Linked DNA regions of Homo sapiens: all the other regions are linked to region 2. Evidence: fine-mapped expression QTL. A gene starts in region 2. Each other region holds a variant in brackets. All regions are shown on one strand. Distances are between the middles of the regions.

Evidence for each region.
Region 1: its variant is fine-mapped to the expression of SDCBP2-AS1 in lung (TOPMed, PIP above 0.99). The same link has a PIP of 0.9 or more in whole blood.
Region 3: its variant is fine-mapped to the expression of SDCBP2-AS1 in whole blood (TOPMed, PIP above 0.99).
Region 4: its variant is fine-mapped to the expression of SDCBP2-AS1 in whole blood (TOPMed, PIP above 0.99).
Region 5: its variant is fine-mapped to the expression of SDCBP2-AS1 in whole blood (INTERVAL, PIP 0.99).

What each region holds. Positions count from the first base shown.
Region 1 is chr20:1,374,840-1,379,523 of GRCh38, forward strand. It overlaps FKBP1A (FKBP prolyl isomerase 1A), which reads right to left. Exons shown (of 5, transcript NM_000801.5): 3 at 652-764. The region is part of intron 2 of FKBP1A-SDCBP2 (FKBP1A-SDCBP2 readthrough (NMD candidate)); the gene reads right to left. It overlaps SDCBP2-AS1 (SDCBP2 antisense RNA 1), which reads left to right. Exons shown (of 3, transcript NR_040049.1): 3 at 1,959-3,896. Among named protein-coding and RNA genes, the nearest start is that of MIR6869, 16 kb to the right of the region's middle. RefSeq lists an enhancer at 2,550-3,749. The variant C/T (reference allele first, on the strand shown) is at 1,963.
Region 2 is chr20:1,322,760-1,327,443 of GRCh38, forward strand. SDCBP2-AS1 (SDCBP2 antisense RNA 1) reads left to right here and starts at 2,584. Exons shown (of 3, transcript NR_040049.1): 1 at 2,584-2,770. All of the region lies in intron 1 of SDCBP2 (syndecan binding protein 2), which reads right to left. All of the region lies in intron 2 of FKBP1A-SDCBP2 (FKBP1A-SDCBP2 readthrough (NMD candidate)), which reads right to left. LOC124904856 (a long non-coding RNA gene) reads left to right here. Exons shown (of 2, transcript XR_007067487.1): 2 at 1,107-1,610. RefSeq lists enhancers at 2,646-2,875, 2,866-3,160.
Region 3 is chr20:1,362,449-1,367,132 of GRCh38, forward strand. The region is part of intron 2 of FKBP1A-SDCBP2 (FKBP1A-SDCBP2 readthrough (NMD candidate)); the gene reads right to left. All of the region lies in intron 1 of SDCBP2-AS1 (SDCBP2 antisense RNA 1), which reads left to right. Among named protein-coding and RNA genes, the nearest start is that of MIR6869, 28 kb to the right of the region's middle. The variant A/G (reference allele first, on the strand shown) is at 2,347.
Region 4 is chr20:1,352,556-1,357,239 of GRCh38, forward strand. All of the region lies in intron 2 of FKBP1A-SDCBP2 (FKBP1A-SDCBP2 readthrough (NMD candidate)), which reads right to left. All of the region lies in intron 1 of SDCBP2-AS1 (SDCBP2 antisense RNA 1), which reads left to right. Among named protein-coding and RNA genes, the nearest start is that of SDCBP2, 26 kb to the left of the region's middle. The variant C/T (reference allele first, on the strand shown) is at 2,589.
Region 5 is chr20:1,391,941-1,396,624 of GRCh38, forward strand. It overlaps FKBP1A (FKBP prolyl isomerase 1A), which reads right to left and starts at 1,114. Exons shown (of 5, transcript NM_000801.5): 1 at 1,022-1,114; 2 at 894-941. The coding sequence starts at 1,058. FKBP1A-SDCBP2 (FKBP1A-SDCBP2 readthrough (NMD candidate)) reads right to left here and starts at 1,232. Exons shown (of 10, transcript NR_037661.1): 1 at 1,022-1,232; 2 at 894-941. It overlaps MIR6869 (microRNA 6869), which reads right to left and starts at 1,021; the gene lies at 960-1,021. RefSeq lists an enhancer at 506-1,006 and silencers at 741-810, 821-920, 1,121-1,170. The variant T/G (reference allele first, on the strand shown) is at 2,603.

The DNA of each region.
Region 1 (4,684 bases), 52 kb after region 2:
TTTCTTTCTTTTTTGAAATGGAGTTTCGCTCTCGTCATCCAGGCTGGAGCGCAATGGCACAATCTTGGCTCACTACAACCTCCGCCTGCTGGGTTCAAGTGATTCTCCTGCCTCGGCCTCCCAAGTAGCTGGGATTACAGGCACCTGCCACCACGCCCGGCTAATTTTTGTATTTTTAATGGAGATGGGGTTTCGCCATGTTGGCCAGGCTGGTCTCGAACTCCGGACCTCAGGTGATCCATCCATCTTGGCCTCCCAAAGTGCTGGGATTACAGGAACTCCTGACCTCAGGTGATCCACCCATCTTGGCCTCCCAAAGTGCTGGAATTACAGGCATGAGCCACCGCGCCCAGCCTACTCCTCTTTTATGTAGTGGTATTGCAAGTGTCAAAAATGCATTAAGTGAAAAAGTAAACTGCAAAACAGTATGTGTGTGAAAGCAAGAAAAAAGTTATGTTTTTATATGTGCTTAAACCACAGTACAAGAAACATTAACAACAGGAGCTTCTTGTGGGGGTATTGGTCAGATGGGATGGCATGAGGGTGAGACTTTTCACTTTTTTTATTTTTGAACCGTATAAATATGCCACCTATAAAAAAATATAAAAGGTAAATACTAGAAAGCAAAACAAAACAAATGAGAGAGCATACCTGGGCAACCCCTTCTTCCCAGCCTCGGATCACCTCCTGCTTGCCTAGCATAAACTTAAAGGGCTTGTTTCTGTCCCGGGAGGAATCAAATTTCTTTCCATCTTCAAGCATCCCTGTGAAAAAGACGACTGTAACATGAGCAGCAGAGTAATGACACAAGACAAGTCAGAAACCAGCAGCAGAGCACTCATCAGAGATGCCAGTGCTGAAGAGTCTGGCAGGAACTGCAGTATCTAGGGAGGGTTTCCTGTGACCTCACTGGACATCTAAGGAGTTGCGACAGTCCTACTCCAGACCTGTGAATGCTCTTCCCTGACTCCAAGCAATAACTCGACTACAAAAGGACCCCGCGTACCAGAGATGAGCGGCAGTCCACCTTCTTCTGGAGATGGGGAGTATAAACTTCCTCCTGCCCTGACTCTCCCAGCACCCCGTGGATTTTCTCCCCAGCTAAAAATAACTGTGGTCCCTCGAGGTGCACACTATGTCTAGAAGTCACACACAGTGCAAGAAGCAATATTCCTTCCCAAAATCCCCCATCATCTTTCACATATAATGTGTGTATATATTGCTCCTCCATTGTTCAGTGCAGGCAAATCCCCCTCCACCATCTGCCACCCCCATGGGCTCCTCTGTGGTTCACTAATTGTGACCTACACACATTGCTGCTCTCCAGGCTGTGGGTCAGCACTATGGGATGTGGTAAGAGGAAGCTATAAGGCAAGCTTTCACCCTCATTCTAGTGCCAAGTGTCTCACACCAACAGGGAACCTGGGGCGTAAAGCTGGCCCCTTGTAGGCTGGTTCCTGAGTTGTCATAATTTTCCTGGGAAAGTAAAAACCAACCTAGGCTGAAATAGAGAAATGAAAGAAAGAATTTGTGCAGCATTCATCCCACTTATTTTATCCAATGCTGCCCCACAAAACAACCCATGCTCATTTTTGCACAGCTAATACTTTGTAACAGAGATGACTGAAGAGAACAGGAATACTAAGGAGGTTGCAGTGGTGGCCCTTCAAGAATTAACTCAGTAAACCCAGCCAACTGCTAGCAACTCTGTGGCCAGTGGTTCCACTCTGAGTTACTCTAAATGGGCTAGGTGCTTTCCACACATGAACGAATGCAATTCTTTCTCCACAGCACTATCCCCATTTCACAGATGAAGAAACTGAGGCAGACAGGGAGAAGTGAAAATAGTAAATAGTAAAATTTACTATTATAAAAATAGTAAATTTATAATTTAGTAAAATAGTAAAACTACGTTATAAATTATAAACCCAAATACCATGCTCTTTCTATTATTCCAGTTTC[C/T]CAGAAGCTGGACAAGCCACGACGGCGCCTTCCAATAAAAGGGGAACTCCAGAGACGCTATGAGAAAAGAGGAACAGACATCTGCAATAGATATCTGCAACTTCCTTTTCAAAAACACCATCGGCATTGCTTTCTCAGGAAGCCACTGCCAGCCTATTGTGATAGCTGACACTGAGTTCCTGAGAATTCTCTAATTAGGATCCCAGATTGGAGGGTCAGCCAGTGGTTAACATATAATGGACACAAAACTGATTTTACTGGAAGACTGAGGGTGGGCACTCACCATGGTTCTAAGCATTCATTACTCAGAAGATCCATAAAAACATTACAGTTCTGTTGTGTAAGAGTTTAGGAAAAAAAGAAAATCCTGACAAAAATCCCAACCTAAAAAACAGTGTCAACATTTGTAAGTAGGATGGGGAGGCAGAGATGAATTGGCAGTGTTATCACAGCTACTGGACTATGTGGACTTTAACAAAGTAAGAAACGGGTGGGGGTTGGGTGGTGGTATCTTAATAGAGCAGGAGTAGAGACGGATGTCCTGGGGCAGAATGGGTACCAATGCTGCCTGAAGCCTGGAGCTGGGAGCTGAGGACTAAGAGGTAGACAGGAGGGTGGGGACCGGTACCTGCTCCAAGGAACTGGTGCCCCAGAACTGGTGAGCTGGGGTATGCATTTAGCTCATTCGTTTACCAGAATGCAGTCACCACCTGATGAAAGAAATGACTAATGGCAGGACTTGAACAGTTCTCTATAAATGAGTACCTGGGAGAAAAACAGGTCTCCAGGCTCCACAATACCCAATAAACACACTGCCTTTAGCCCACTTCAAGCTGCACTTCTTACATGGAACCCAACCCAACCAACCTCAGAGGTAAGGGTGAGAGCAGGCAATGAACAGCTATGATTCTCCATTCCCTGGCCAGGCAGGGAGCCTTTCCATCCACCCTCGTGAGACTGCTTGTAACAGAAATAAGGAAACCGACTCCAAGGCTCAGTAACCCACCCAAGGTCAGAACCACGGAGTGGCAGGGCCTGTGAGCCACAAAGGAGACTGAAAACCAGAAAGAGCTTCTCTCTGGTCTGTTATTTTAAGAAAAACATGCCCAGAGGGGCCACCTGGAAGCAAGGCTGTGTGGCACCCTCACCTTCCTAATTAAACAACAACTTCCCAGGAGCAACGACAGCAACAACAGCCTGGCCCAGCAGATGAACTCGAATCAATCCAAGCCCTTCCCCTATACGGGTCAGTTTGGGCACTACTTTACCTGCTGTGAAGTCTACTGGGATCTTCCAGGAAAGTCCCACCTCATTAGTAAAAAGAAAAACAAAGACTCGGGAAGAAAGTTCCTGCCCTCCCTGTTGAATGCTGTGTGAGGATAAGATGTCTGGAGCATGGCAGTCACCCTGTGACTATCAGAAGGCCAGGCGTACCACAAGGTGGTCATTCCAGTGCTCTGAATCAGCCCCAAACCACTTCCCTCAAGACTCATGTTCTGAGGTGATTAAAAGTGTGCTTTGAAGGTAAATCTAGGATGACAGTCAACAGATCAGTGATTGCCAGGAGTCAGGGGTAGAGGGAGGGAAGAACAGATGGAGCACAGAGAATTTTTAGGGCAGTGAAAATGTTCTGTATGATACTATATATAATGGATACATGCCATTATACACTTGTCCAAATGCACAGAATGTACACCACCAAGAGTGAACCCTAATGTAAACTATGGACTTTGGGTGATCATGATGTGTCAATGCAGGTTCGTCAATTGCAACACACGTACCATTCTAGTGGGGGGTGTTGATAACAGGAGGCTATGCATGTGTGGGACCAGGGGATATATGGGAAATCTCTGTACATGCCTCTCAATTTTGCTGAGAATCTGAAACTGCTCTTAATGAAGTCTTACAAAAATAAAGAAGTCTGCTTTGCCTTAGGTTGGGTCTTCAGTTACCTGCAGCCAAATGAACACAACTGGCGTGAGGTAAACCTCTGACACTTAGTGAGCACGCTACAATGTAGTGCTGCCACGAAAGGAATAACAAAGAAACAGAACTCAACAACTAAAACCACAAAGAACTATCCCTGATCCGCGACAATGGGAACAGTGTCTCATGTCAGGACCCAGTACACACCCACATTTTGTCTGTGTATAAACAAAATTTACATGTAAGTTACTACATGGCATATACTTCTCATTTTTAAAAAGAATGCTGATTGTGACCCACTACATTTATTTCATGATGCATTAATGGTTCATAACCCACAATTTGGAAAGTACGGTATACCTATAAAAAATTAGCCTTATTTCTTGCCAAACTTGAACACGGCTCTGACCTGTGCAAGATCGTATTTTGATTGCAGTGAAAGCCACAGGGTACTGAGACAGACTCCCTAAACTTCCTTTTTATTCCTGATCAAATGCAATGCCAAGCAACCTCCAGACACTACATGCATCAATGTATCAATGTTGCTTTGCCTGAGGTGAGATACTTCAACTATCTATCTGACTGGTACCAGGCTAGGAGCACTAGGCAGGACACAGCCTGAATCTGCTGCTGCTGCTGCTGCTGAGCCAGCATGGAGATGTGTATGTTCTTCAGTGGCTCTATGTGAGGATGCCTGTCTAACCCCAGCTCTCCTGAGCCTATCTTGGACACTGAGGGGCAAACCTCTCCCTAGTATCTTAAAACCATAAAAGCCAGGAAGCAGGATTTCTAAGTA
Region 2 (4,684 bases):
AGGGTTTCAGCATGTTGCCCAGGCTGGTCTTGAACTCCTGGGCTCAAGCAATTTGCCCGCTTCGGTCCCCCAAAGTGTTGGGATTACAGGCCTGAGCCACTATGCCCAGCCTTTTGTTTTTAAAATCTGAATTAGTGCCAATATTTAAAAATCTGGAAACACAAAATGCGTCACTTCTTACTTGGATTGAAAAAAATATAAACATTTGGCAAGGCAAGAGCTGGAATAGTGCATGGCAACACTCACCCGGCTGAGTCACAGCCTACCTCGCAAATGGGGCTGTACGTGCTTTCCTGTTTCCGCAAGTACCCATCAGCCCTTCACTGATTTACGTTGCCTGCTTGGTTCCTGGAGGCAGCCAGTTCCAGACCCTGCCCTAGCCTGGCCTTTGGGGTAGAAATGACCATCCCAACAGGACAGGAATTTCCTGGGAGGGGAGGGAGTCTGGCTCTGACTTCCTTTAGACCACCTGGGGGAAGAGACCCCTTTGCTTATAGCCTTCCCCACTGTGTACACACACTATGAGATTTTTAATCTTGGGACAGTCCTGAGCAGCTATCATCTGCCAAAACATGACCTGCCACCAGGACCACGCATGAACAGCAGATGCGAAAATAAGCAGCCACTCCTGCCCTGATTTTCCTAACATTTAACCAGTAGAGCACTTATATTTTTGTCAGCTGTCCCCTGGGAGAGCAGGGAGTCAGAGATCCATTTCCTGGAAATCACTCCCGGGCCAGATCACATAACCCTTTTTCTGTGTCTGAGATCCTTTCACCACTGCCACCTTCTCTGGATCCCATCTTAGTGCTGGGATGCGGGGAAGTGAGAAAACAGGTACAGTCGTTCCTTGGGGTAGGTTCCAGGACAATGCCCCTCACTCCCCATCCCTCGGATACCAACATCCACAGCTGCTTATGTCCCTTACATAAAGTGGCATAATATTTGCATATAACTTATGCACATTCTTCTGTATACTTTAAATCATCTCTAGATTACTTACAATACCTAATGCAATGTAAATGCTAAACAAAGTTATATTTTATTTTTATTTGAATTTTTGTTGTTTTTTTTAATTTTTATTTTTAAATATTTTCTGTCTACAGTTGGTTGGATCCATGGATGTGAAACCTGGGGATAGGAAAGGCATACTGTATCCCCTGCCTTGTAGCAGCTCACAATATAATGGGGAATGGTTCCCTGCCAGCGAACATGCTGTGTTTCGTTCAATCATTCAAAACATTTGAGTGTCCACTGTGTGCCAGACGTGCTGGTCCCTCTGCTGTGCACATCATCCTCCTTGGTGTGATGCTCCTTCGAGGCTCAGTTCAGATGCTACTTCTCTGCTTGGCTTTTCCAGACTGCATGATACCCAGGCTGCCTGGCTGGGTCTTCCCATGTATTCCACCCCTGACCTGTACTGCCCCTGTTGCCAAGCTATTTATCAAATTATGTGATTAATATCTGGGTATTTTCTTACACTGGACCTCACTCATAAGGGCAGGAGCTCTGTCCCGTTCACACACGATCCTTCCCCGCCACGGCACTGCCCAGCACACATATGCTAGCAAAAATTATTTGACTGAATAAATCAGTGGTTTTCCAAGGAACAGATTGGAAATTTATGTGGGCATTTTTGGGTGTCACGAGACTGAGGGGACAGTCATATCCCTGTCGGGGGTGGGGGGGGCAGGGATATGAAACTCCTGTAATGGATGGGACAGTCCATTACAGTCACCATAACAAATGGTCCTGTCCCGCACAACTTTCAGATATCCTGCCAAACTTTCAAGTAAGCCAAAAATCCGTTATAATTGGTTGTACATACAATCACAATGAATTTTTCCCTAGTTTTAGTACACACTAGACTGTCTGGAAATGCATATATCAGGTTGGTTGTGGGGAGTTACACTTTGCTCACCATTCTGGAAAATCGCTGCCCACCCTGCTCCCCACGGGTGAGTCACCCGAACAGCATGCTCACGTCTGTGTACATGTGTAGCTGTCACAGTGACTCCGCGCTTTTATATAAATATATTTAGCCTTTGACTCAAGATGTCAGATATAAACTGTTGGCAAAATTCAGCTGAATATTGTCTTCTAGTAAACCTAAGCTGATTCCTAAGTTGGGTACAAGCGTGATCGGGTGTAAGCCAGCCTCAGCTTTTACAAAGTGAAATGCATATTCTTTTATTAGAAATTACTTTCATGTCCCTGCCTTCTCCTTATAAACAAAGGGCATCATATTGATTTTTTACCCGGGGAACCATCACCTGGGCTGCAGCCTCAGGACGAACCTGTGCCTTCCCTCTGTCTCAATTTCCTGCTTTGGGAAATAGGAGCCACAAGCCACAAACTCCATCCACCGCGCCACAGGAGCGAGGTCCAACGCAACGGTCCCTAGGGCCTGCCTCCAACCCAGCCTCAGTTTCCTATCTGTCACATCGTTCTATGATCTCGAAATGACTATAACCCCTTTCTTAGCCCCAAACCAGCCGGAAGCGACATCTTCCGGTTGCTACAGGTTACGGCGGTTGCTATGGGCTACGGCGCCTGCGCAGAAACACCGCCAAGCGACTCAGCAACTTCTAGAGCGCATGCGTTTCGCCCACCCAGGCCCGGGCGCGGTTAGGGGTGACTCCCACGATCCCTAGCGGCTGCAGAGTGGAACATGGCGGCCTCCTTGCCGCTTGCGTTACCAGAGTCCACCCGGCCTCGTGCTTTCTCCGGGCGCCCGTAGCTGGCGCCGGCATCCACAAAAATAGATCAGGTAAAGCAGCAGAGTAAGGCATAGGAAGACTTGGTCGGGCTCCGCGGCCCCTCTTTACCGGATTGGAGGCTGCGCGGGTGAAATCGAGCTTTAAACTCCCCTGGCCTCGGAACACCATTTGTAGCCTCTGAAGGAGGAGGACTTATAAGATTCTGTACTAAGGCAGCCGTGGGAAGGGAGGAGAACCAGGTCGGCCCGCGCGCTCCCGGCTGCTTTTGCTCTCCCTTTGGTTTCGAAAGCGTCAAGTCCCAAGGTATTTCCTACCAATTGTGACGTCACCCTTCCTCCCCCGTTTCTCACCCGTTTCTTGTCTGGCCGTGACTTCTGACCCAGTGTTGAGCTAAAAATGCCCCGCCCCACCCTACGCAGATTCACCCCGCGTCCCACCCACCAGTGACTGAGTGACTGGGCTTCTGCTGCCTAGGGAAGGGTTCTTGGCTTGGCCGGGCAAATCAATTCCCACAGCAAAATCAGACCGAAAGCCTGTTATGAGGGACTCAGGCAGTTGGATGTGGCGTATAGGAGGAAGGCTAGGGCAATCAGGAAGGTCTCCTGGAGGAAGGAAGAAGACCCTGACTGGGCCGTGTAGGATGGATGTTCAAGTGGGAAGAGAGTGTGCTATTCCAGGGACAGGGAGGCCCAGGCCTGAGAGTCCAGTTGCCTTCTGGATCCCGTTTACCTCGCAGATTATCCAAACTGGACTCGTGATTTTCCCCAGCTGTGCCGCGCCTCCCCAGCGGTCTCACTGAATCCACCCATGGGCTATGTCAGAAATCTGGGAGTTATCCTCAGCTCCTCCCTTTCCCTTCTGAAGCCATACCTACTTCTTGCCCTCAAATCTCTGTGACCTGACTTCTGGTAATGTTTCCATTCTCACCATCTCATTCTTCTCCACACTTATCATGAAGTTCATTTATTCCAGACTACTTTAGGTTGAGTCCTAAAAGTCAGCCTGCTAGTTCATGCCTCCATGCTTTTGCAGGTGCTATTCCCTCTGTCTTAAGAGTCATTCATGCCTTCTCTCTTTTCCTTGTTGTGAACTCTTTTTCCTCCAATTTAAAGCTTTCCCCCACCTGTACGCATGGAGATTGGCAAGCCTCCCTTCTCTAGACGACAGCATTTCTTGTATTTGCCTCTTCATCATATATTCCACAAGTGTTTGTTAATCACCTACTATGAGCAAGGCCTTCTGCATTTCCTAGGTTGGATTTCCACTGTGCTGTGTTTGTTTGCTCATCTCCCTCACTGGTCAGGAAATGTCACTCATTTGTTAACCCCCAGTGCTGAGCACAGTGCCTGGCACACAACAGGCATCCCATTACTATTTCTGAAAGGAGTGGAAAAGCAGGCACAGAGAGAAGAGAAAGCCTGATATCCTAAATATACAGTCTTTCTTCCCATGCCTGTCTGTGTTTGCAGTCAATAAGTAGAAAGTCTTTCGAAGAATAACCTGGGCCTGGAAAAGGAGAGAAACCATGGCCCTAACGAGTTAGGTTGAAAGGCTGCCTGGCTCCTATAATCTGACAGTGGAAGTTTGCTCAGTTCTGTGCTGATGGCTTCCCACAAGTAATTGGTTCCTCCGAAAGGAAAAGAACCCACCTAACCCCTCTCTCTCAGAGGAATTTTCCTCTCCCACAGCCCTTTCCAGATTTCCATCCCTGAGCTTCTGTACTTTTTGATATAAGCAATAACAACACCCACAACAAACCAATAGCTGGGCTTCGGAGATCAGCAGGGCTGACAAGGGGACTTCAGCCCCCATCTTTGAACTTAGAGTGAGAACACTCTTTGGAACACTTTGTTCCAAAGAGCTGAAGTGATGGAACTCCCACTCGTTCCTGTGGACAGCTCATCCGTCCTTTACAAGACAGTGCGCGGGAGGGAAGCGTGGGTTAGAGTGTCAGAGGAATAGCT
Region 3 (4,684 bases), 40 kb after region 2:
CACTTCCGCCAGTCTGCTCCAGGCCTCCATCCTTTCTGGCCTAAATGAACCCCAAAGCTGGCTTGTGTCCTGCATCCATCCACCACTCTTGCCCTTGTTTCACTTATCTATTGCTGTGAAATAAACTTCAAAACCAAGTGATTCAGTCTCACAACTCTGGTTTTCCTGGGCTGAGTGGGGTGGTTCCTCTATTCATGTGATGTGGCTGGAGCTGTGGGCATTTGTGGGCTTGAATGGGCTGAGTGTTCACCGTGGTTCATTCACATGGTGGCAGCTGGCTAGGTTCTCAGCTAGGACGATGGCCTCTCCATGTAGCTTGGGCTCAGAGCTAGTGTTCTGAGAAGGAAGTAGAAGCTGGCAGTCCTATTGAGGCCTGGGCTTGAAGTCCCAGAACATCCTTTCCCACTGCCTTGTAATGATCAAAGTAGTCACAAGGCCAGCCTAGATTCAAGGGCTTGGAGGAATACTACCTTTCAGTCAATTTCCCAGTTTCCAGAGGATTTTAAAAAAACAAACGGCTCGACACAGTGGCATGTGCTACTCGGGAGGCTAAGGTGGGAGGATCGCTTGAGCCTGGGAGGTTGAGGTTGCCGTGAGCTGTGATTACACCACTGCACTCCAACCTGGGTGACAGATCAGACCTTGTCTCAAAACACTCTCCCCAAAACAAATAGACATAATTCTCCTGCTGGAATCCACTGCTCACTAGACTTACATTGTAATAGCCTGCCTCACCTGGCCCCTGCCTAACTCTGTCCCTCACACCTTTGCTCTGTCTCTAAAGGTCATACTGCTGTTTCCCCAGCACCCCAAACTCACCACCCTTCAGGGACTTAGCCTAGAACAATTTTCCTCCAGGACTTCACTTGGCCACTTCACTCCATTGCTTCCAGACGGCTGGCATTATTTGCCCATCTGTTTTGGGTCTCCTTCACTGGCATGAATGTAAGGTCCTTGCCAGCAGCACTTTTCTGTCCTATCCTACATTCACTCTTAGCATCTAGAATGGTGTTATCACAGGAAAGGCATAAAAGTATACTCTGTGGTTAACTGAATTTACTTGCCTAAATCTTGGGCATGTGATGCTTTGAGAAATATACAAATTAATGTTAAACAGAACCACAGTGGTCAGTAACAGGCACATCCAAGGATACACTAGTCCTGCATACATACCCACTGGCATGTTTCTACCTTCCTAATAAGAGCTGACAGCCGTTTTGCTGCATGCTGTACAGGACAGCTGCTGCTGCAAACTCAGCCTCTGATGGGCCCATAGTCGATGTGCCCACTGCATGCCTTGAACTCAGGGAATTCAGACGAAATCATCACACACTCCAGCCAGAAGCTAGAGGGCTGCCGGCCTTGACATTTTAATGCATTTTTGGTGTCAGCTGCCCTTCACTGATTCACTCAATTCTAGAGGTCTGAATGAGAATCCCTACACGCTTCTCAGGGGTTCTGAAGAAGCCAGTGTAGCCCAAGGTCATCAACCCAAGTGAACCCACATTTATCCAGGAAGCAAGAGGTGTGGCAAGGGCAGAATTCTAACAGACATCCATTCCACATGTGTCAGAGACAAAACTAAGTCCAAGATAAAATCGACAAAGGCTATTTATTCATAAACGTGCAGCAGGGGAACCCTTCTGCTGAAACCTTTGTTTTGGTAAGTGTTCAGAGGTGTTAAGACGTTATAGAGTAAAAAGGAGAAATACTGACAGTGTTGACTTGGCAAATGTCATATAAGGGTAGGATTTGTGGAAGCAAGCCAAGAGACAAAGTGGTCTTCAAGTACATTTGACTTGATTAGCTTCAAGGAGGCAGGTGAGCAGTCTGGGACCATTTCAAAAGAGGAAAGGGGCGGAGAGTTTTCTGTGGCCAGCCATTTCCTGGAAAAAGTGATGGTTGATGGGATGCTTTTTTGCAGTCTATCATCATGGTTCTTAGGGGTGTAAAAAGTAAAGTGAGGTTCCTCTTCAAAGACTTTCCTCCCTGTCTAATTAAGAATAAATAGTAACTTCTCTTAGGAGCAAAACTTATTCAAAGACCTGTGCTAACATTCTTAAATATCTGCTAGCCGTAATAAAGAAATCAATGTACTTTATGTTCTTAGCTCCCACAATTTAGCCTATTTGCCCTGGCAATGCTTATACTGGTCCAAGCAAGCATTAGGTCATAGCCTGTTCCTCTTCCTTATCTGAAGGTGTTTTTACGTTTCTCAGCATTCCACAAGTTACTTCCTCCTTCATTCTCCTCTGCCTTTGCCTCTTTTAAAAAGTTCTAAGTTGCTAGCCAATCAGGACAAATACAGAATGTGAGGTCCCGTTCCAGCCAATGGAAACTGGACAC[A/G]GCAGTAAAGTGGACTTGTCAAGTTATAAATGACCCTGTCTCCTTTGTTCGGTGTTCTCTCGTGGCAAAACTGCTGGCGAGTGTACCCTTTCTGCAGAAAGTATAAAAATGACCTTGCTGAAGAAATTAATGTTCAAGTGCTATTTCTTTGCGGCACTGAAGAACAAGCATTTCAAACAGAGGGTAGGGTGGGGTGGTGGTGGTGGTGTTATGTGGTTGCCACAGCTAAGTTAAGTTTTTCACATGGATCATTAACTTTCAAATAATTAAAATTTTAGAGATGCAAGGTATCTTAAAGTTCATCTGGTCACTCTGACCACCCACATTCCCACTCTCATCCCAAGTTCATTTAATGGATGGAAAAACTCAAACAAAAGGTAGTTTGGCATCTAACCCTTAGCAAAGGTTAGATGTGGAATTAGAAGTTTTCCTGAATCCTAGGACTGTAGTATAACCATCATGCATTTCAAAAGTAAAACAAAAAAGGAAATTTAAAAAAAGAAAATACAGTAAGTAGCCACATAAACCGCTTCTAGCTGGGTCCACTGGTCCCCCTGCTTCTTGTTTATTAACGGAATCTGTTCAGGGGCTCTAGGGCTCAGAGCTTTAGGGGAGTCTGAGCCCTTCTCCAGCCCTGGGGTGATGGGTCTTGATTGATCCAGGTCAAATTCTCCACAGATTTAATTCTGGCCAATGAATATGAGAAGAAATGAGAAGGTGGAAAGGTGTCTTAGTCTACTTTTTGCTGCTATAATAAAAATACCAATACATGGGGTAAATTATAATGAAGAGAAATTTATCTCATGGAGTTCTGGAGGCTGGGGAGTCCCAAAATCAAGGTGTTGGCATCTGGTGAGGAGCTTCTTGCTGTCCACCCCATGGTGGAGGGTGGAAGGGCAGAAAGAGAGAGAGGGCTGGAGGCCAATAGGTGGCTGAACTCATTTTTTTATGAGGAACCCACTCCCATAATAACAGCATTAATCCACTCATGAGAGCAGAGCCCCCATGACCCAACCATTTCCCATTAGGTCCTACCTCCCCACACCCACTGCACTGGGGATCAAGTTTCCAACACATGGAACTTTGGGAGACACATTCACGACATAGCAGAGGACCACTGGAGAAAGGAAGGTTTTTAAAGATTTTTTTTAGGACACTATGGAAGTGATAGCCATTGGACATGGATGGTGTTTTTGTTTTTGGCATGGGAAAAGGCTTATACAACTCTGGTCAACTTGGCAACACTAATCAAAAGTCAAAATCTCCTTTGACCCTAGGGATCCCCTACTATTAACAGTATTATATCTTATAGAACCTAGGTATTTAGGAAAGAAAAAAATGTTCAAAGATGTATTGACATTTAATAAAAGCAAATAACTGGACATAACCCAGCTATCCAAATACAGGCTATCAGGAAACACTGTGAAGGACTTTGAAATAGGTCTTGCCCACTGCCCCCACCCCTGCCTCCAATTACTGAGTGTTCTGTCTAATCTAGCCCACCTTTCTGAGTTGATTCCCTTTCATTTCACTGCCTTTGAGCTACTTTACAATTACGTAAATTAAGGGAAACTGATAATGCAGATGATTCTTGTTCATAGAAATGCAAATTGTGACCAATGGAATATAACTGATTATTGTTCTGCAGGTATCAGCCAATTTTGCCAGTTTTGTAACTACGAAGCAAACTCATTTCAGCATTCCTGCTAGGCTTATAATTATTTGTTCTTTGGATTCTCCTTTGAGCCAATTAAAGTGTCCTACTGGTTCTCTCAATAATTAACAAGTTAAATACAATCATCTTTAACATGTTACTTTTATATTTGTATGAGTCATAATTTTAACTTCTAAAAAAATTATCCTTTAACAAGGTAGTTAAGTAAATTTAATGTTCATGTGGTATAATTTACTTAGCAGCCCTCTTAAAACAGTTATAAAAACCATATGGCAACAGGGACAAATACTCCTGATAAAAATGGCAAGTGGGGAAAAAAGCAGAAATGCAAAATTTGTACTACGTTGTGATTAAAGCTAAACGTTGTAAGTGCTTAGGGCAAGAAATAGGAAGGAGAAAAAAAATTGAAGTTGGATTTGTTTGTTAGGGTGGTAGGATCCTGGATTAAAAAAAAAAAACAAAACCCTGACATTATTCTGTTATACATTAAAAATAATATTGGCGGGCATGGTGGCTCACGCCTGTAATCCCAGCACTTTGGGAGGCCAAGGCAGGCGGATCACGAGGTCAGGAGATCGAGACCATCCTGCTAACACGGTGAAACCTCATCTCTACTTAAAATACAAAAAATTAGCCAGGCGTGGTGGCACGTGCCTGTAGTCC
Region 4 (4,684 bases), 30 kb after region 2:
TGACCTCAGGTGATCCACCTACCTTGGCCTCCCAAAGTGCTGGGATTACAGGTGTAAGCCACTGTGGCCGGCCTACTTTATGTCTTCTAACTGGAGAGTTTAGTCCATTTGTCTTCAATGTTATTATTGATAAGCACTTACTCTTGCCATTTTGTTATTTGTTTTCTGGTTGTTTTGTAGTCTTCTTTTCCTTCTTTCCTTCCTTTCCATCTTCCTTTTAATGAAGGTGACTTCTCAGGTGGTATGTTTTAATTTCTTGCTATTACTTTTGTGTATCCATTGTATGTTTTTTTATTTGAGGCCACCATAAGGCTTGCAAATAATATCTTGTAACCCATTATTTTAAACTGATGACAACTTAACAATGATTGCATAAGCAAACTAACAAGCAAAGAGATGAATAAAAACTCTACACTTTAACTTCATCCCCTTGCTTTTGACTTTTTGTTGTTTCTATTTATATCTTATTATACTATGTCTTGAAAAGTTGTAGTTATTATTTTTGACAGGGTCATCATTTAGTCTTTCTACTCAAGAGATCAGTAGTTTACACACTACAGTTACAGTGTTATATTCTGTGTCTTTCTGTGTACTTATGATTATCTGTGAATTTTATACTTTCAGATGATTTTTTTTTTTTTTTTGAGACAGGGACTCACTGTCACCCTCGCTGGACTGCAATGGAGTGTGGCTCACTGCAGCCTCAACCTCCCAGGCTCAAGCAATCCTCTCATCCCAGACTTTCAAATAGTTGGGACTTCAGGCACATACCACCATGCCCAGCTAATTTTTACTTTTTGTAGAGATGGGGTTTCATTATGTTACCCAGGCTGGTCTTGAACTCCTGGACACAAGCAATCCCCCAACCTTGGCTTCCCAAAGGGCTGGGATTAAAGGTGTGAGCCCCCAGATGATTTCTTATTGCTCAATAACATCCTTTTTGTTTTTTTAATTGAAGAAATTCCTTTAGCATTTCTTGTAGGACAGATCTGGTGTTGATAAAATCCCTCAGGTTTTGTTTGTCTGGGAAAGTCGTTATTTTTCCTTCATGTTTGAAGGATATTTTCACTGGATAAATTCCAGTATAAAAAGGTTAGTTTTTCTTTAGCCCTTTAAGTATGTCATGCTAGTTTCTCTCCTGGCCTGTAAGGTTTCCACTAAGAAGTCTGTTACCAGATGTATTGGAGCTCCTTTGTATGTTATTTGTTTCTTTGGCTGCTTTTAGGATCCTTTTTTATCTTTGACTTTTGGGAGTCTGATTATTAAATGTCTTGAGGTAGTCTTATTTGGGTTAAATCTGCTTGGTGTTCTATATAACCTTCTTGTATTTGAATATTGATATATCTCTAGGTTTGAGAAGTTCTCTGTTATTATCCTTTTGAATAAACTTTCTACCCTAGTCCCTCTCTCTACTGCCTCTTTATGGCCAGTAACTCTTAGATTTGCCCTTTGGAGGCTATTTTCTAGATCTTGTAAGCATGCTTCATTCTTTCTTATTCTTTTTTCTTTTGTCTCCTGACTGTATTTTAAAATACACTGTCTTCAAGCTCATTAATTCTTTCTTCTGCTTGACAAATTCTGCTGTTAGGAGACTCTGATGCATTCTTCAGTATGTCAGTTGCATTTTTCAGCTCCAGAGTTTCTGCTTGGTTCTGTTTAATTATTTCAACTTCTTTGTTAAATTTATCTGATAGGATTCTGAATTTCTTCTCTGTTATCAACATGATTTTGTTGAGTTTCTTCAAAATGGCTATTTTGAATTATCTATCCAAATATTCATCAATCTCTGTCTGAGATTGGCCCCAGGTGGGTCCATAGATGTCGTCCAGAAGGCAGGGCCTGTAGTTGGGAACCTTAGGAGTCTACCTGATGCTCTATTCTACTGCGGCTGAGCTTGCATCCAAGCCACAAGACAAAGTCCTTTCCACTATTCCCTCCCCTTTCCTCAGGCAGAGGAGTCTCCCCATGGCCACCACTGTCCTAGGCCCGTGGTGAGTACTGCCTGGCTACCACCTATGTTCATTCAAGACCCAAGGGCTCTTCAGTCAGCTTATGGTGAATGCTTGTAGTCCTGATTCTCTCCTTTCAGGGCAGTGGGCTTACCTCTGGCCCAGTACAGGTCCAGAAATGCCATCCAGGAGCCAAGACCTGGAATCGGGGCCCCAGAGTCCCACTTGGTACTCGGTACTCTACCCAACTGTGGCCAAGCTGGTACCCAAGCTGCAAGACAAAGTCCCCTTTACTCTTCCCTCTCCTTTCCTTAGGCAGAAGGGGTCTCTCCCTGAGGCCACCGTAGCTGGGAATGTACTGGGTCACACATGAAGCCAGTGTGGCTCTGAGTCTCACCCAAGGCCTGCGGCCAGTACTACTTGGCTAACACTGCTGATTATTCAAGGCCAAAGGGCCCTTTAGTCAGCAGGTGATGAATTTTGCCAGAACTGGGTCCTTCTGTTCTGGCAGTAGGTTCCTTTCTGGTAAGTTTAGAAATGTCATCCAGAAGCTAGAGCCTGGAACGAGTGCCTCAGACCTCTGCTTAGTGTCCTATTCTACTGTGGCTGAGCTAGTATCCAATTTGCCAAAAAAAAAGC[C/T]CTGTTTACTCTTCTCCTCCTCTCCTCAAGCAGAGGGAAAGAGTCTTTCCTGGAGCTGTAAGCTGTGCTGCCTGGAGTTGGGGGAGAGATGACACAAGCACTCCCTTGATCACCCCAGCTGGTGTCTCACTAGGTCACATGCCTCCCAAGTACACTGGCTCCGAACACAGCATAGCACCAGGACTTGCCCAGGAATTGCAGTCCTTCTGGTCCAGACGGCCTTCCAAATTTATTTAGGACCCCAGAGCACTTTAGCCCACTTTGGCGGGGTTTGCCAGAACTCACGTTCTGACTGCTGGGATGGATGATTTGCCCCTGGCTAGGACATGGGCACTCGCGAAGTTCTGCCCCGTTGCTTTCCACTGTGAGAGGGCGGCACTGAGTTCCATTGCAGTGTCCCACAATCACTGTGCTCTCTTCCAGAAGTGCACATATTCTCTCTCCATACCACACTCAGTGCCTCTTTCTTTAATATGATTTTAATATCAAGTACTGTAATCACTTGTCTGATTTTTGGCTCCTATGAAGGTGCTTTTTTGTGTGGATCATTGTGCAATTTGGTGTTCTTGCAGGGTAGACAATTGCTGGAGGCTTCTTTTCAGCCATCTTGCTCCACCTCCTCCTGATTTGCTAGTATTTTATTGAGGAGTTGTACATCTGTGTTCCTGAGAGATTGGTTTTTAATTTTCCTTTATTATAATATCTTAATCTCGTTTCGGTATTAGGGTAGTGCTGGCCTCATAGGATGAGTTAAGAAGTATTCCCTCTGCTTCCGTTTTCTGGAAGAAATTGCAGAGAATTGATACTATTTATTCCTTAAACATTTGGTTTCACCAGTGAAACCAGTGAAACCATCTGGGTCTTGTACTTTCTTTTTTTGGAAGGTTACTAATTATTAATTCAGTATAAAACCAGCCTTGCATTTTAAGAATGAGTGAGAGGCATACAGTTTAATTCCATCACAACTGATCAGAAAACATACTTCACATAACTTCAATTATTTTAAATTTGTTAAAGTTTGTTTTATGTCCCAGGATATGGTCTATCTTGGTAAATGTTCCATGTGCACTTGAAAAAAAAATGTGTATTCTGCTGCTGTTGGATGGAATGTTCTAGAAATGTCACTTAAATGTTGTTGCTCATGTTGTTAATTTCTTCTAATCTTTGATGATTTTTTTTTTTTTGTCTAATGGTTCTATCAGTTAGTGATAGAAGGATGTTGAAGTCCACGCTGTAATTGTGGATTTATCTATTTCTTCTTTCAATTCTGTCAGTTTTCACATTATTTTATAACTTTGTTGTTCAGTGCATACTATTTTAGGGTTGTTGAGTCCTCTTGGCTTGGGGTTTGCTCATTTTCTTAAATCTGAAGATTTACACCTTCCACCAAATTTGGGGAGTTTTCAGCTATGATTTCTTTAAGTATATTTTCAGCACTGCACTCTTTCTCTTGTCCTTATGGAACTTCAATAGCTCTAAAGAGTATTTAGATCTTGGAGTATTTTCCCATAGGTCCTTAAAGTCCTATTCATTTTTAAAAAATCTATTGTCTTTTTTTTCCTCTGTTCAGACTGTGTAACTTTTATTGGTTTGTCTTCAAGTTCAATGTTTCTTTCCTCTGTCATCTCCACTCTGCCATTGTGTCCATCCAATGAGTTTGTTTCTGTTATTGTGTATATATATATATTTTTAAGTTCTAAAACTTCCATCTGGGGCTGGGTGTGGTGGCTCATGCCTGTAATCCCAGCACTTTGGGAGGCTGAGGCGGGCAGATCACTTTAGTCCGTGAGTTTCAGACCAGCCTGGGCAACATGGCGAAACTCCATCTCTATAAAAAATACAAAAAATTAGCTGCGCATGAAGGCATGTGCCTGTAGTCCCAGCTATTCACGATGCTGAGGTGGAAGGATCGCTTGAGCCCAAGAGGTGGAGCTTGCAGGTGAGCTGAGATCACGCCACAGCGCTCCAGCCTGGGTGACAGAGACAAACCCTGTCTCAAAAGAAATAAGTTAATAAATAAAAAATAAAATAGGCTGGGCACAGTGGCTCACACCTGTAATCCCAGCGCTTTGGGAGGCTGAGGCAGGCAGACTGCT
Region 5 (4,684 bases), 69 kb after region 2:
CATACAAACCAGGACAAGCTTGTAAGGAGAAGGAGTAAGACAGCCCCAAGGCACACGACTCTGATGTCTGAATTCTGGCTGGGGAGGGGGAGGTGTCTAAAATTTCCTTTGGCTTGTATTATCACTATGTATTAGCCTCCAGATGCTTATCTTTAAAATGAGGACGAGAAAAGTCTCTACTTCTAGAAGAGCTGGGGGACTAAATTACACGTGCAGCTTTCGGTCAGCCTGAGCCAGCGCTGTCACTGAGCCTTGGATTTGTAAGTGGCTCAAAAGTAAAAAGACGGAAGAAGGCCGTGCAGCTCTACTTCCCCCAAGGCCAGGAAGGGCCAAAGCAATGACTTAGGAAGTGGGATGTTTCCCCACCCTAGGCAAAGGGGCGAATTCCGAGTTCCCCGGAGGAAGCAGCAGCTCTGCAGACTCGGAATTACCTCGTCCTCATCTCCAGTGAAGGGAGGGATGGAAGTGGGGGCAGGGGCACAGAAATGGTACAAATCCTTCCTAATGGTCCCTGGCCAGAGCTCTGCCCATTCCTGAAAGTGTGACCTTGGGAAAGTGAGACCTTGGGAAAGTGACTTCGCCTCGCCAAGCCTCAGTTTCCTCATCTGTGCAGCGGGCATAAGGGCAGCATCTAAGGTGCAGAAATGCTTCTGACGGGTCAGATAACACCTAGCCCGCAGCCGACGCTCACAGCCGCCGATTCAGACCCGCCCGGGTTCCGCAAGCCCCAGGCTGCCCCTGAGCCACCGCCCAGGCCTCAGCCTCGGGCCATGCGGACCTCGCCGCCGCCACGCCCCGGACCCCAGGCCCCGGGCCCCCAGGCCTCGACGGCCAGCCGCACCCGGGCTGCGGACTGCGGCCCGGGCCCCCTCCCCGCTGGGCCCCCGACTCACCGGTGTAGTGCACCACGCAGGTCTGGCCGCGCTTGGGGAAGGTGCGCCCTGAGGAGACAGAGACGGGCATGCTGAGCCGATGCGCGCGGCGGCAGAGGTACTCCGAGCCGCCGCGCGCCACTACTCACCGTCTCCTGGGGAGATGGTTTCCACCTGCACTCCCATGGCGGCGGCGGACGCTGAGCGGGCGGGCGGCGCGACGGGCGGCGTGGACCAACAGCGACCTGGCGGCGGTTCCACGGCTCTGCCTAGTACCTCGGCGCGTCGCCTGCGCACGCGCACGCCCCCTCACGCCCAGCCCTGCGTGCGCGCCCCACACGGCGCGCGACGTCCCGGAAACCCAGGCCTCCGGAAGAGGGACCGGAAGCCCAGAAGCCCCGAGACCTCCGGAAGCCCGGAGGCCTCCGGATACAGCTGTGTTTGCCGGGTGACTTGCTTCGTTCTCCTGCCCTTCCTCTGTGCTTCCAGCCGGTTAAGCATCTCCCTGCCCAAAGAATGGGAGTAATAATAGGGGGTCCGCCAGTCACTGACTGGGTGACTGTCATCAGGTTTCCACTTAGAAGCACACAGTTACTCATCCTGGGAAGAGCATGGTTCTGAGAAGACAGCGCACAGGTGGTGGTAGTATGTTAGTATTTTATAAGTGGCTCAAGGTTGTAAGTTCTGCTTTTCTTCACTGGAGGAGGAGTTGTCCAAATTCATTCACTCACCCATAGCTTACATGCATACATTCTTATTGAGCATGTGAAAGTTGATAATACGAATTGGGTCACTCTTCTTATGCCCAACGGAATCAGAATCCAGGGGCCAGGGGAAAAGCACTGGAGGCACGCAGCGCCTGCTCCAAGAACCAATATTTCCACTAACTGCTGCGGAAATGGCCTGCTGTCCCCCTGAGACCAGATTCAGCTAGTAACTGCTGAAACAACCCGCCATAACCTAATACTAGTTTTACTTACCACTGTCAGTCACCAATCAGAGCTTGCCAGCTCCCTGAAACTTTACTAGTGCCAATGCATTTCCCTTTCTAATAAAACGCCCAGCCTTCTCTTTGTTTTTCGGACATACCAAAGACCACCAGATCTGTGTGTATGCTCCGAGTTGCGATTCTCGCTTCCCCAAATAAAACATTACATTTAGAGATTCATCTCCATATTTTATTTTGACTTTGACAAGCACCTTCTGTATGTCATGTACTGTGCTAGGTGCTGAGGATACAGCGGTGAAGGAGTCAGACTTAGTCCCTGACCTCACAGAATCTACGTATGATGTGGGAGAGATAATCAAATAACCTGTTTAAGTAAAAAAAGATACGGAATAAATGTAAAGTTTCAAATCTGTAATATTATGAGACAGTAATACATGCTGTGAGGGGCGTGTTAATATAACAGAGATGCCTCACTTAGTCTGGAATGTGGTCAGATATTTCCCTGAGTTAGCCAGGTTTAGCCAGGTTTAGCCAAGGTTAGAAGGCCAATTGTGTGTATGTGTTGGGGTAAGGGGAGGCAGAAGGAGCAGTACCTGCAGAGGCACTGTAACGCAAGAGAACACTGTGACATGGTCTAGGACATAAGGAGGCACATGTGACTAATCTTTCTCTGATCTGTGTGTGTGTGTGCTTCTGCATTAGTCGATTCTCACACTGCTATAAAGAATACCTGAGGCTGGGCACGGTGGCTCATGCCTGTAATCCCAGCACTTTGGGAAGC[T/G]GAGGCGGGCAGATCACTTGAGGCCAGGCGTTCAAGACCAGCCTGGCCAACATGGTGAAACCCAGTTTCTACTAAAAATACAAAAAAATTAGCCAGGCATGGTGGCACAGGCTTGTAATCCCAGCCACTTGAGAGGCTGAGGCATAAGAATTGCTTAAACCAGGAGGCGGAGGTTGTAGTGAGCCAAGATTGCACCTCTGCATTCCAGCCTGGGTGACAGAGTGAGAACCAGTCTCAAAAAAAAAAAAAAAAAAAAAAAATTCCTGAGACTGGGTAATTTATGGAGGAAAGAGGTTTAATTGACTCACAGTTCTGCATGGCTGGGAATCCTCAGGAAACTTACAATCATGGCAGAAGGGGAAGCAGGCATATCTTACACAGCAGCAGGCATGAGAGAGAGTATGTGAAGAGGAACTGTCAAACACCTATAAAACCATCATTTCTCATGAGAATGCACTCACTACCATGAGAACAGCATGGGGGAAACCACCCCCACCATCCAATCACCTCCCACCGGGTCCCTCCCTTGACCTCAGGATTATAGGGATTACAATTCAAGATAAGATTTGGGTGGGGACACAGAACTAAACCATACCAGCTCCTGTAGTGTTTTAAACATGACCTCACAGTTTTTTGACACCCCAACCCTCATCTATGTCCCCTTTCCTAAAATCTCAGTGAGCTCGTGACTGCTTTGGAAATTTTAATGTAGTAAGAATACAGGCTGTAACAGAACCAAATTAACTGTGGCTGAAAAGAGGCTGAAGTTGCTGTCTCTCTCATGTAACAGTTCAGAGGCAGGTGGTTCAGTGCAGGTAGGACTTCACAGGCTGCCCAGGGACTCATCCTTCTTCTACTTGTGGCTCCCCATCCTTAGAATCCTACCCTCATATGCATGGTCCAAGTTGGCTCTCCAACATATTTTCATCTCAGCTAGTGGGAAGGGGGAAAGGAGGAATGGGGGGTACATTCCCTTTTCCTTTAAGGGTACGACTTAGAATTGCACACATCTCTTCCCGTTATACTTCACATTGACTATAACTTAGTTATATGGTCAAATTTAGCTGCATGGGAGGCTAGGGAATAAAGTCTTCATTCTGGGTGTACACACACCCAACTAAAATCAGAGGTTCTGTGCTCATAGAATGGAAGAATGGAGATCGAAAGATGAAATTAAAAAGAGGGCCCCAGCAGTCGCCAGGACACTGCTTCACACCACCTAGAGAAAATCAGACTGCAGCGAGAATAAATGATGGAGAATGAGAGCAACCAGGGGCGAGAGAGTTCCTGGATTCCGTTTTCCCTGAAGCCTAGCAGAATAAGGCTTGCCTCACATTCATCCTGTGGTCTCTCTCATGGCTCTGAATTGGGTATCGGTTCAAAACATAGACCTGCCTTTGAGACAGTGGCCATCTCAATCCATGGATATAAGCTTTGTTTATATAGATGGGGGTTCCCCAAGAACCTCACATTTGCACCACTTCTTCCTCAGTGCTTTGGGAAAACACAGGAAAGCATGTAGCTATCAGTTCTGCCACCAGACCTAAGATGAATTGGACCTGGGGACAAGGGGCACTTATTAAGCATTTATCTGATTTTTTGAAGTAACTGGGAGAGTTCCTTTCTAAATTAATTTAGATTCTGTTTATATATAGCCTAGTTATTAACAACTCTGTTAAGTAGTTAAGTTCTTTGGGATCACCCTTAGCAAACCAGAACAAAAAACAGAAAGAGTGAGTGACTCTAAGAGATGGAACTGGGAGAAAGAGCAGGAGATTCTGACTTTCATTTAATATCATTCTGAACTGATTAAATTTATTTTCACTCTCTTTGTGTAACAGGAGACAGGGAATCATTTCAGTCTGAAGTCATAAGCATCCCTCATGACAAGGGGAAGTGACTCCCTCCCTGAAGTTCTAAAACCTGAAAAATGGGGGTTGGATTTCCTTTGGTTTATCCTGTTTGTGGTTTACTCAGCTTCCTGAGTCTATAGGTGTATGCCTTTCACCACATTTGGGAAGTTTTCAGCCATTATTTCTTCAGATATTTTCTTCTGCTCCATTCTGTTTCTCCTGTTCTTCT